2 linked regions of the Homo sapiens genome follow. The protein of the gene in region 2 purifies or fractionates together with the protein of the main gene of each other region. This does not show direct contact. Each region holds a gene or a part of one and is shown on either strand. Other genes may lie near its edges.

Region 1 (7,000 bases), on a different chromosome or scaffold from region 2:
ATGACTTGCCTAGCAAGTTAATGACAGAGTTCTTACTTTTTTTTCTTTTCTTCGACCGTTTTGCTCTGTTGCCCAGGCTGGAGTGCAGTGGCGCGATCTCAGCTCACTGCAACCTCCACCTCCCGGGTTCAAGTGATTCTCATGTCTCAGCCTCCCGAGTAGCTGGGATTACAGGCACCCGCCACCACGCCCAGCTAATTTTTGTATTTTTAGTAGAGACAGGGTTTCACCATGTTGGCCAGGATGGTCTCGATCTCTTGACCTTGTGATCTGCCCCCCTTGGCCTCCCAAAGTGTTGGGATTACAGGTTTGAGCCACTGTGCCCGGCCTAATGACAGAGTTTTCTTATTCAATGTGCTTTTGCCCTTAGGCTAGTATTTATTAAATGCTATTTCCTAAGCCTTTCTCTTGGCATGTACCTTTCCCACCTCCAATGGCCGTCACTATTTGGGGCCATTTCACACCAGCATCTGGAGTTGACTGACAAGAGCAAGGTTTCGCATTTCTGCAAATGAATGAATGCTTTAAACTAAACATGACACATAATATTCTTGGTTATAAAATCATAGTTGCATTTACTTAGATGGAGAGTAAATTTTGTGCCAAATGCCTTATTAGGAAGTCTTACTACACTACTACACCCCAAGGTTAACAGCCTTTTACTTTTCCTCATCCTCTTTTTCAAACTTCACTAGATTTTTAAATGTCTTTGAACCTTTTCCAATGGCAAGAATTTGAAATCTTATAACAAAAATATTTTCAGATAGCTGAATCAGTCATTACCACTTAATGAGGCAGGTCTTGCCAAAAGTCCTAAGAATTACTAAATAGTTTCACACCTGAATATAAATGATCATATTATATCTGGAACCATATTAAAATCTAAATTTGAAAGAGCAATAGCCTTGTAGGTAACTTCATAGGATTGTCTCTTACACACTACTTCAAAGAAAAGCAACCCGTTATTTTAAACATGAGCATCTTCACTAGACTTTTACAAGTCTTTGCAATTATCCCAAAGCAAAACTTGAGAATCTTTATATCCTACAGTTTCTCAACCTTGGCACTACTGACATTTGGATGGAATAATTCTTTGTTGTGGGGGACCATCTGTGCATAGCAGAATATTTAGTATAATAATAGCATCCTTGGCATCTAACTGCTAGACACCAATAATACCCTTCCTCTTTCAACCAAAATGTCACTGCCAAATGTGGGGGAATGGTGAGGTTGGTGGAGGCCCATGGAAAATATATCCCCCCTACAACCACTGAGACCCACTACTGAAACAAAACAAAACAGTTCTATCTTAAATTATGAGAAGCACAGGGTATACTGATCCAAGCCCCTAAGGGTGCCTTTTAAAAAGAGAAAGGCAGAATAAACAGTGAAACTTTAGAGGAAAAGCTAGAAATACATATCCATAATAAATGAAGAATTCTAAGTGTAAATATAGAGAAATATATACAGACACACATGAACATCCATTGTGAAAACTTCAAGTGTCCAAGTTGCTGTGCTGAAATTTTGCTTAATAAACTACTACCCAAAATGAGTCAATGGCCTCAATGTTACATTGATTATTATCAAAGACTCTTTTTTTTCTTTTTTTTTTTTTAGACGGAGTCTCACTTTGTCGCCCAGGCTGGAGTGCAGTGGCATGATCTCGGCTCACTACAAGCTCCACCTCCCAGGTTCACACCATTCTCCTGCCTCAGTCTCCTGAGTAGCTGGGACTACAGGCGCCCACCACCACGCCTGGCTAATTTTTTGTATTTTTTAGTAGAGACGGGTTTTCACCGTATTAGCCAGGATGGTCTCGATCTCCTGACCTTGTGATCCGCCCGCCTCGGCCTCCCAGAGTGCTGGGATTACAGGCGTGAGCCACCGTGCCCGGCCTCAAAGACTCTTTTTTAAAATATAATTTGCTATCAAAGGAGGCATTAGATTAAATTACACCATACATACCTTCAAATTTGGCATTCACCATAACATACAAATGCTCTCCTAGACAGTCACTTCGGTCCCTGGATAATGCATGTAAACTAATGGTGGGGTATTCCAGTGAGAATCCTAATCCAGAGCCATCTAACCAAGACAGGCGGCTGAAAAACATGTTTTAAGTAGATTATTTTTAGAAAGTAAATCCTCATGTAAGACCACAAAGTATATAAAAGTTCAGCTTGGACACCTTTATGCATATAAATAAATTCAAGTTTACTTTTTTAGAAACGTTCATAAAATAAGAAAATTCAGTAGTGGAAACTGAGTTTTCTTTAAGATCAATTCTGTTACGGTCTCTTTCCCTCTAGCTATAAATTCAAACAGACTTGAAATTCCATTTTCCTCAGTCACATGTATGTTTCTATGACTTTCATGCTTACTCTTTTTTGGTATGTCTTCAAATACCCTCTTTGCTTTTGCAAATCCTCCCCTCTTCCATGAGGCCTCCCTTCAACTACACCAGTCCATAAAGATCTCTTCCTTTTCTGATTTGCAAATTTTAGCACTTAACTCTGTGGTAATGAGTCTTATATGTGCCCTTATGGAATGTGAACTATCGGACAGCAGAACTTGTCACATTCCTTTATTAACATCCTTCAAAACCGTTAACAAAGAGCTCAGGAGTTAAGTATGCAATAAATCCTTGGTAATCATGCATTTCTCCATGAATCCTACACTAAAAGACATATATATGAAATGGCTGTAATCACACTCACCGCAAGTCAGGAAATAATTATTACCCTGAGAGACAGATTCCCTGAAGCCTTTCATTTATTCAACGTCTTTAAGAGAAAGCCACAGAAAAGCTAGATCTAGTTTTCCCTCAAATGTGGTCAAATGCAAATATTTTATTGGTGTAACAAAGGAAACACATCACCAAAATCAGTATTTTGAGCTTTCAGTAGAGGCTAGCTAATTTTCTGATAATACTTCATCCATCTGGAGCTGTACCACTTAGCAGAAAAAAAGTAAAAAATCCTGAAGAAGTCAAAAAAAAAATGTTAATGCAATATAGTGGTTGCCTAGGGCTAGAAGGAAATAGGGAATGTCTGCTACTGGGTACCAGGTTCTTTTTGGGGTGAAGAAAATATTCTAAAATGGTGGTGATAATTGCACAATTCTGTAAACAGACTAAAAACTAGTGAATTGTATGTTTAAATGGTTAAACTGTATGCTATATGAATTATTTTTAAAAGTTAATGAAGTAAGACCCCTGTATCATTCTATATTCTATACAATTTTAACAAGCCTGGCTGTCTAATTTCTAACCAAGCAAAAACAAAAGTAAAACAGGAGAACCTAGGACTGCCTTGGGCAGGAACAATGACAGTGTGACAGTCTGAGATCACTCATGTTCAGTGGAAGGGGAGGATGAACTTTCCACCTCAGTTCCCCTAAATGAAATCAATGTCTAACCACATGACCCTCAGTTACCGAAAGCATTACCAAAAACAAAGGCAGATTATTAGATTGTGGTGATAACTGTACAACTCTGTAAATATACTAAAACTTACGTAATTGTATACTTTTTTTTTTTTTTTTAGACAGAGTCTCGGTCTGTCGCCCAGGCTGGAGTGCAGTGGCGGATCTCGGCTCGCTGCAAGCTCCGCCTCTCGGGTTCACGCCATTCTCTTGCCTCAGCCTCCCCAGTAGCTGGGACTACAGGCGCCCGCCACCACACCCGGCTAATTTTTTGTATTTTTAGAGACGGGGTTTCACCGTGTTAGCCAGGATGGTCTGGATCTCCTGACCTCGTGATCCACCCGCCTCGGCCTCCCAAAGTGCTGGGATTATAGGCATGAGCCACCACACCCTGCCCCTAATTGTATACTTTCAAAAGGCAAAAGTAAGAATATATGCACTGTCATGTGGAAAGATTTCTATCCAACATTCTTATTAAAAAAAAAAAAGTAAAGGAAAACTAGGAAGCTTATAAGTGATAAATCTTTGTTTTTTTGAGATGAAGTCTCACTCTGTCACCCAGGCTGGAGTGCAGTAGCATGATCTTGGCTCACTGCAATCTCCACCTCCAGGGTTCAGGCGATTCTCCTGCCTCAGCCTCCCAAGTAGCTGGGATTACAAGCGTGTGACACCACGCCTCGCTAATTTTTGTATTTTTAATAGAGATGGGGTTTTGCCATGACGGCCAGGCTGGTCTCAAACTCCCGACCTCAGGTGATCTGCCACCTCGGCCTCCCAAAGTGCCAGTATTACAGGCGTGAGCCACTGCGCCTGGCCTAAAAGTGATAAATCTTAAAGAGCTAAAAGTGATAAAACCTCTACAAATTGTTTTCCAGAACAACTCATTCCTACTGGTTCCAAAGAAACATTGTATTATGTAATGAGGTTATGTGCTGTATGCATCTTTCCTGCCCACTGCTTTCCTTTTAATGTGGAGAGGAAATAATGCCCAAGTATCACGAGTCCCCTACAAAAGCTGTATTATTTTAAAGCAAATAAACTGCCCTTTTCTGATCTCAAAAATTTTCTGGCGTTATCACAATTCAGAAAGAAACATTCCAAATTTGGGTGTCCAAAATAATTTCAAATATCCAGAGCCATAAAACTTGAATGACTCAATGACGACATGGAAAAACTGAAACCTAAACATAGAATGAGTGCCTATCAAATTATGGCCTTCACTTTTAAAAGCCATCATAATACCTCTGTAATTCCTTACTAGTGCAGAGAGAATACAAATGCTCCTCTGCACAGCATTTGCTATGGAACTCTCATAATCTTTTACATGAACTGGGATTATGCATTCTATAGGACAGAAGCCAAGTTCCACACTTAAAAACACTTATTCTAATCGTTAAATTCTTTTTTTTTTAAATAAAAAAAGAAAAGAAACCCTAGGTTTCTGTATTTTACTTTTTCAGATTTACAAATGCAAATCATATATTAATATTCACAGATATTTTTAAATGGGAAAACAACTTACTTTCAACAACTTATTTTTTCCAACAGCATGTTACTATGTTAAAAAAGATTTGACATTATAAGCCGAGCGTGGTGGCTCAGGCCTATAATTTTGGGAGCATTTTGGGAGGCCGAGGTGGATGGATCACCTGAGGTCAGGAGTTCCAGACCAGACTACCAACATGGCGAAACCCTGTCTCTATTAAAAATACGAAAATTAGCTGGGTGTGGTGGCAGGCACCTGTAATCCCAGCTACTTGGGAGGCTGAGGCAGGAGAATTGGTTGAATCCAGGAGGCGGAGGTTGCAGTGAACCAAGATCACGCTACCACACTCAAGCCTGGGCAACGGGGAGACTCCATCTCAAAAAAAAAAAAAAAAAAAAAGAGATTTGACAGTACATTCATTTAATCTGGCAATTTTAATTTGAACAAATACCTATTAACAACAAATTAAATCCTATTGCACATGAATTATTTGTTGCACCACCACCAGATTTTCTAATTCTAGCAGAGGCCACGATGAAATAGGCCAGACATGCTGCCATTAAAGTTTGCTGGGATGATTGTAATAAATCTACTGAAAGTATTCAAGTTCTAACTTTCAAAGTGATGTAGAGAAACATAAAAGATTTCACTGTATCATCTAAAAATATAACTGTTTTGTCTGATCATTAAATTCTGATTTGCATTTACTCTTTGTATATATTCTAGAAGAAATCCTTCTAAAACATTTAATTAATCATACCCAGTTCCAAAGAAACCGTGAGTCAAAAGGGAAAGACAAGAAGAATTAGACACAGAGTAAACATGTAGAGAACATGTTTTGCTGAATTCAAATGCTTTTGCACAAGTATGGTGAGTGTCCTTTATTCCCAGCACGGGATGAAAAACAGGACAGGAAGCTAAGAGAGGTCTTGAATTTGGGTTAACTTAATTATTTGGTTTAAGATTAATTTTGGAATGAGATACAAAAAAAAAATTTTAAGTTTAAATTACCTAATTTTAATTTGATTACCTATTTTACCTGTTTTAAACTGTCTATTTTATATTATTCATGCCTCTGTATCTTCCTTATTTGGATAAAAATTCAACTTCCTGGCCGGGTGCAGTGGCTAACACCTATAATCCCAGCATCTTGGGAGGCCGAGGCAGATGGATCATCTAAGTTCGGGAGTTTGAGACAAGTCTGACCAACATGGAGAAATCCCATCTCTGCTAAAAATACAAAATTAGCCAGGCATGGTGGTGCATGCCTGTTAATCCCAGCTACTCGGGAGGGTGAGGCAAAAGAATAGCTTGAACTCAGGAGGCGGAGGTTGCGGTGAGCCAAGATTGCGCCATTGCATTCCAGCCTGGGCAACAAGAGTGAAACTTCATCTCAAAAAAAAAAAAAAATTCAACTTCCTATAAAAAACTAAGCTCTGAAATAAGCCGGAGATTCTAAATCTTTCAACACAAATCTGAGAGACTAAACCAAGTCCAGCCAAACCTAATCTGTTGCTGTCCCTCTCTGCCTCAAACTAAATAGTTTCACCAAAGCCTAAAGGCTATAAGCCAAATTTATGAACATGACTCTCTCCTTCTCCAGCTTTATCATCTCTGGGCATTCTCCCTCACTCCCTCAGATGAAGAACGGCTGGACTGTATATATATGTACACAGTATGTGTGTGTATTTATACCCTTTTTTTGTATTTATGTTTCACACACAAAAAAATTATTTTGGCCGGGCACGGTGGCTCATGCCTGTAATCCCAGCACTTTGGGAGGCCAAGGTGGGTGGATCATGAGGTCAGGAATTTGAGACCAGCCTGGCCAACATGGTGAAACCCCGTCTCTACTAAAAATACAAAAATTAGCTGGGCGTGGTGGAGCACGTCTGTAGTCCCAGCTACTCAGGAGGCTGAGGCAGGAGAATCGCTTAAACCCGGGAGGCGGAGCTTGCAGTGAGCCAAGGTCGCGCCACTGCACTCCAGCCTGGGCGACAGAACAAGACTCTGTCTCAAAAAAAAAAAAAAAAAAAAAATCTTAAAGAAGAAACATAAGAGATTTGTTTGTGAAAAGCTGAAACAAAT
Region 2 (6,634 bases):
GTTATCAAAGTCAGCAAGCAGCCCTGCTAGTTGTTTGCCTAAGATTAGGCTCCTTCTAAGCCTTCTGATGAGGATGATAATTTCAGACAAGGTTGGCAAGAATACGATGAGTGGCTATTAACCAGCCACAGCCTTATGACCCAGAATCCAAACAAGGATACAGCCACATGAGCAAGAGGGGTATCAGAAAAGCTTTTCTCAGGTTAGAATCTTCATTACCAACTCTTGATGTTTTACAAGTCACTTCCTCCCAGCAGCAATGTAAGAGAATGAACTGCCCCACAATCTGGCTATTGCTACATCTGGCCAAGTGGCACTGATTCCAAGCTTGGAAACTGCATGAGATTCAGCAAAAGACAGCACTGAGCAGCTTGACCTCCTAATGCAAACATACCATGTCGGAGAGTAAGATCAAAACAAACACAAGAGTTAGAAGATCCTGAAGATAAACTCCCCAGATGTGTGCAGGATTGATATCTGCTTTTGCTTTTTCTTTTGTTGTGCTAACTGTAGACTATTTTAGAGGGATTATTTTTGTGTTTCATTGAAATTATATTTCATATTTTGAACTTTATAGTCAAAATAAACATAAAGAGCTCAAATGATTTCCCCCTATAACCCACTGTCAAATAAGCAGGGGCAAGCTTCAGTTTAAGTGAAAACTAGGGGTTGATTTATAGAAATTATTTCTAAATGCAATGACTACAAGAGTCACTTCCAACATAAAGTATATCATTAAAAAAATTAAATTGGTAATTTCTTTTAGTATCTGTACTATGTTGTGATGTAAGGTTTTATCTCACCCTCCTACCCTCCCCAAACCTGCTCCCGTCCAGTCTTTCCCATCACAGTAAGTGGCAACTCCAGTCATCTCAGTTGCTGCTCAGGTCAGAAACCCTGAAGTCACCCTTCACTCCACGCAATCTCATCTCTTCCCTTAGAATGTGCAACCACTTCTCTCATGTCTGCCACCATCCTATACCAAGCCATCAGCGTCTCTTGCTTGGGTTTACTTCAATGAACATACCCACTGGTCTCCCACCCTTGCTTCCTGATCAATTCTCCACAGAGGCCAGAGTAATCCTTTTAAAACAGAAGTCAGATCATATCACTCCCCTGCCAAAACCCTCCCACAGCCGTACACTATCTGATTGCATCTACTACTTTCTCCCTTGATGATGATGTCTCAGCCCTGTTTCTGGAAGATGTCACGTACACTCCTGCCTCAGGGCTTTGCAACTGCTGGTTGTTCTGCCTGGCATGTTCTTCCTTCTTGTTATGCAAACAATTCACCTTCTTCAAGTATTTGCTCAAATATCAGCCCTCAGTAAGGCCTTTCCAAGAACCCTATTTTAAACTGCAAACTCTTTCATCTATAGGCGCCCTCTCATCTCTGCATTATTTCTCTCCATAGAATTTATCACCTGCTGATACACTGCTTTTTACTTACTTTGGTTAATGTCTTATCTTCCTATCAAAATGTAAACTACTCAAAGGTAGTAATTTTTGTCTAGTTTGTTTTCTGCTGTATCCCCAGCAACTAAAATACTCAAATTTTTGATGAATGAATGAATATGCCAAATGATTGAATTGTAAAAAACTTTATGAACTGAGAGGTCCTAACTCCAAAAAGAACATTAAAGACGAAGTGTAAGAGCATTACAAATGATCGCCAATACACACAAAGGCAGAGTTGCAGTGAAAATCAACAGCCAGCTGAACTGTGGGTGAAATTCCCTTTATATAAACATGGCCTTATAATCAGATGACCTCAGATGGGTCTCTGGTGTGTACAAAGAAAGCAAAACCAATTTTCCCATGAGTGCCTCTGGACACTCATGTAAGAGTTACAGATGTTGACTACATTTAAACATTTATCATGCTTCCAAAAACATATTTGTAAGAGAAAAAAATATAAAAATAAAAATGTACAAAGTTCTTTATTAAAATAATAGCTTAAATAAATCCTCTGTCAACACCAGACAGAGTCAGTGACTGGATCTAGACTCTAGAGCTTAGAGCTTTTTACATAGTTACATGAAAACATTTGAATCCGTCTTCACAGACAGTGCCACGATGACAATCTGGTTAAAACCAATAAGCCATCTTCCAGATGCAGCTTAAGAGTTCAGGCGAGAAAAGGAACTGAGGAAAATGACTGTACATAATATGGTTCTCATTCTATTTGCCTTTTTTCGTCTTGGCTGTCTTCTCCTTTCTTTTTTTCACATGTTTAGGAATTTTGTTTTTTCTTTTCTCTCTCTGGGCTTCCTTGACCATCTTTTTTCTTTCCTGTAAAAAACAAACAAAAAAGCCAACTTTCATTCATTTGGAGTATGCATTTTTTGTTTTTGTTTTTTGTTTTTTGTTTTTTAGACAGGGTCTTGCTCTGTCGCCCAGGCTGGAGTCAGTGGCGTGACCATGGTTCACTTCAGCCTCCACCTCCTGGGCTCAAGCAATCCTCCCACCTCAGCCTCCTGGGTAGCTGGGACAACAGGTGTGCACCACCACACCTGGCTAGGTTTTTTTGGGGTATTTTTTGGTAGAGATGGGGCTTCGCCAGATTGCACAGGCTGGTCTCGACCTCCTGGGCTCAAGTGATCCACCCACCTTGATCTCCCAAAATGCTGAGATTACAGGCATGAGCCACTGCACCCACCTGGAGTATTATTATGATTATAACTAAATAAAATACACACATAGAAGAATAAAAGTGAGTGTAATGTAAAGAAAAGAAAAGAAAATGATTATGGGTTGGTGGAGGAACTTGGGGTGAAAACTGTCTTTCAGTTTTTTCTTTTTAGAGACAGGGACTCACTCTGTCACCCAGGCAGGAGGGCAGTGGCATGACCATTGTGCACTGCAGCCTCAAGCTCCTGGGCTCAAGCAATCCTCTTGCCTCAACCTCCCCAGTAGCTGAGACTACAGGCATGAGCCACCATAACCGGCCTTGAGCTTCCTCTTTTTTTTTTTTTTTTTGAGACGGAGTCTCTGTCGCCCAGGCTGGCATGCAGTGGCGTGATCTCGGCTCACTGCAAGCTCCGCCTCCTGGGTTCACGCCATTCTCCTGCCTCAGCCTCCCAAGGAGCTGGGACTACAGGCGCCTGCCACCACGCCCGGCTAATTTTTTGTATTTTTAGTAGAGATAGGGTTTCACCATGTTAGCCAGGATGGTCTCGATCTCCTGACCTCGTGATCCACCTGCCTTGGCCTCCCAAAGTGATGGGATTACAGGCGTGAGCCACCGCGCCCAGCTGAGCTTCCTTAATAGAAATGTGAAGACAGCCAAACAGAAATATCCCTAAGAATGTTATTAAATGTTTGCAAATACTTTTCTTTACAAGTTCCATATTCTAACAGAAATAGACATTGGAAAGAGACAAAATATGTGTTTCTAGTAGACATATGAGAAAATATGCTAGCAGCTGAGTATGTCCCTCAGAAGTCTTGGGACCCACATTGTATAAGGTTTAAAGGATTAGACTAAGATGGAATAATAATAGTCACATAGCACTCAGTCAGCAGTGTCTCTATGTCTATGGCTAGGGATTAAAGAAATACAAGAGTCCCTTCTTATCCATGGGGGATATGTTCCAAGACTCCCAGTGGATGCTTAAGACTGTGGATAGTGCCAAACCCTATATATACTATGCTTCTACCTATACATACGTACCTATGATGAGGTTTAATTTATAAATTAGGCACAGTAAGAGATAATAACTAATAACAGAATGGTAACAATATACTATAGTAAAAGTTATTTGAATGTGGTCTCTCTCTCCAAATATCCCACAGTATCATACTCATGTGACAGTAGCTTCTTCATTGGCAGATGCAGCCTCTCTGGTAATTTTTCTATTTTTTAGTCCAAACCTATTCCTGAATCTGTGTAACTATTCCTTACAGTAAATGGCCTGGTGGCACTCATTTCAGGGGAACCCTTGCTGAAACCTTTGAAACCTTCGTATAGGCTCAGTGCTTTCTGGTGCAACATGGTGCCATCAACTGGAAGATGTTTTTGTTTACGTCTTTCACCCACAAATTTCATGCCTTTTCCATCTTAACTAAGCAGTTATCACATGCTATGGTCCTAAGTTTTGCAGTTTGGGGTGAGACAGCAAAACCAGCACAAACATCTTTTTCCTTCTCCACAATGTCACGGATAAAAGATTCTCACCAGCAACTTCAGCATATGATTCTTTTCCTTTTATTTATTTTTTTGAGACAGAATCTCACTCTGTCACCCAGGCTGGCGTGCAGTGGCATGATCAGCTCACTAGAACCTCAAACTTCTGGACTCAAGGGATCCTCTTGCCTTAGCCTCCCAAGTATTTGGGACTACAGGTGCTCATCACCAATGTTTTAATAGAGACGGGGTATCACTCTATTGCCCAGACTGGTCTGGAGTGATCCGCCCTCCTTGGCCTCCCAAAGTGCTAGGATTACAGGCATGAGTTCCTTGTTAAGTCAAGAATGGTCACCTTTCCACTTAAAGGAAGCATTTTATGGCTTCTCTAAAGCATACCTGAAATTCCAACATCACTACTCCTGTAATTTACGGTCATTATTAAGCAAAGTAAGGGTTACTTGCACACAAGCACCACAACATCACAGCAGCTGAACTGATAGCCAAGAAGGCTACTAAGTGACTAACGGGTGGGGAGTGTCGACAGTGTGAAGACGCTGGACCACGTGATGATTCACATTCCAGGCAGGATGGAGGAGGACAGCATGAATTTCATCACACTACTTAGGACGGTGAGCAATTTAAAACTTATAAATTGTTTACTTCTGGAATTTTCCATTTAATATTTGCAAACCAAGGCTGACTGCAGGGAACTGAAACAGTAGAAACTGAAAGCATGGATGGGGGGACTATTATATGGTCTTTCAGATTCCAGAAACATCAAGCTGGGCTATAAATCCCCCTGAAATGGCTCTTCAGTATTTACCCTGGGTCAACTCTAACATCACTTGTACTTCATGTGAAATGTACTGAATTTAGTGCGTGCTCTCTCTAGGCAATGCCCAAGGTGCTCTGATGAGCAGCCCAATCTCAAGATAATGTTACCACCAAAAGTCAAGTTCACACTTAGGTATTAAAACTGTAATTAGAGGTACTTATCAATAATGTTTTCAGCCATCATAATCTAGCTAGATCCTTGAGCAAAGAGAAATAAGAGCGGCTGTGCTCCCACACTAAAGAAAAGGGGAAGGTATTTCATTGCTTACTTTTTTATCAATGTCAGGGTCCGTGGTGTGTTTCTTGGGGCGGGCATGGTCTCCCTGCTCTTCAGAGTCTGTGTCAGAGCACTCAGAGCTTCCAATATCTTCTGAATCAGAACAAGTCCTTTCCTCCACTTGATTTTCTAGGAGTGCAGGGACCTTGAAATTATTAAAGAACCATGTTATTCTAAACAACACACAAACCAAGTTATGTGTTGTTGTTAAATGTGTTAATGCCAGAATTCAGATTTTAGGCTCGCAAATATATGTTAAAAACTAACATCCTGTACTGAAACATCAAAACACCAGAATGAACATCAGGAGGGAAACATGAAAGTAGCCACTCCAAGTAAGGCTCCAGAACATACTCAAATGAAGGAACCAGGGCTTTACTGCGTGACCTAGATCAACAACAGAGCTGTTCTCCTTCTTTCAGCTAATCAGGAGCATTTAGTTGGGATTGGGAAAGAGGCAAAATATACATAGAGGTAGAAAATGAAGATTTATATGGATAACTTCACAGCTGTTTTCCTGTGAACCACATTTCTAGCAATAAACTAATCCAATTGGGAGGGAAAACAATATGTGAAGAAGAGAAATTTTCATTACTTCCTGAAATTCAGCAGTTGTCTAATACAGCGCTTCCTAGCAGTTTTTAAGAGTGAGGTTTCCCTTTTATAAGAAAAAAACAGATCTTTAGAAGTCAATTGTACAACAAGATTTTCTAGCTTGCTGCAATAAAATCTTCATGCTCTGGAATCCAAAGCATAACTTCCTTATGACACCTGTTATTATAACTCAGAAATGCAAAATACCAGAATTCCCCTAATTCAATTCTTTCCACAGAAAAGACATGATTTTAAGAAAGCAAACTGTGATCCTTTATTTAAGTCTTCAATTAGGAAGATTTAAAAAAATAAAGACTGCTTTTATGACTGCCTAAGTTAGAATTACTTAATCCCTGCCCTTCTAAAATGTAAAACAAAACAAGATTGTTTTAAGAAAAAAGAACATCACAGGAATCCAGCACAGCAGGACTTGCTGAACTCATGAGATTGTTCTTTAACAAGTAATACCCTGGTAGGAGACTACATTCCAAAGTTCTCCTAAGCTGGTTGTAAAACCATCAAGAAGCACAATGGCTATCATTAAGAGCTCCACAAATGACGACCAGGATACAAAAAGATAAATACCTCACCTGCAATCACTGAACAATTCAGAGACAGAAAGAAAAATAAATTAATTTCCAAATTTCAGTGCTGTGTTTAGAAAGAACACAAAAATGGCATTTCTGAAGATGTCCACAGACTTTGAAAGCAATTATAACATTTTAACAATATAAAATAACATTTAGTTCTAATAATATTAAATAATAATAAAAAACAGTATGACTAGAGTTTATATCCTT

What was found. Proteins that work in one complex are often made in the same cells at the same time.
Region 1: the proteins of RIOK1 (region 2) and CLNS1A purify together in Homo sapiens (affinity purification with mass spectrometry; 3 studies listed by BioGRID and IntAct, with this or other methods). This does not show direct contact.

The regions. Positions count from the first base shown.
Region 1 is NC_000011.10:77,627,795-77,634,794, forward strand, and holds part of CLNS1A (methylosome subunit pICln), read right to left. Parts: intron 2,106-7,000; coding exon 1,969-2,105; intron 1-1,968. UniProt on the Homo sapiens protein: Involved in both the assembly of spliceosomal snRNPs and the methylation of Sm proteins.
Region 2 is NC_000006.12:7,412,989-7,419,622, reverse strand, and holds the end of RIOK1 (serine/threonine-protein kinase RIO1), read right to left. Parts: intron 5,386-6,634; coding exon 5,233-5,385; intron 2,293-5,232; coding exon 2,182-2,292; 3' UTR 1,586-2,181; downstream 1-1,585. UniProt on the Homo sapiens protein: Involved in the final steps of cytoplasmic maturation of the 40S ribosomal subunit. Involved in processing of 18S-E pre-rRNA to the mature 18S rRNA. Required for the recycling of NOB1 and PNO1 from the late 40S precursor.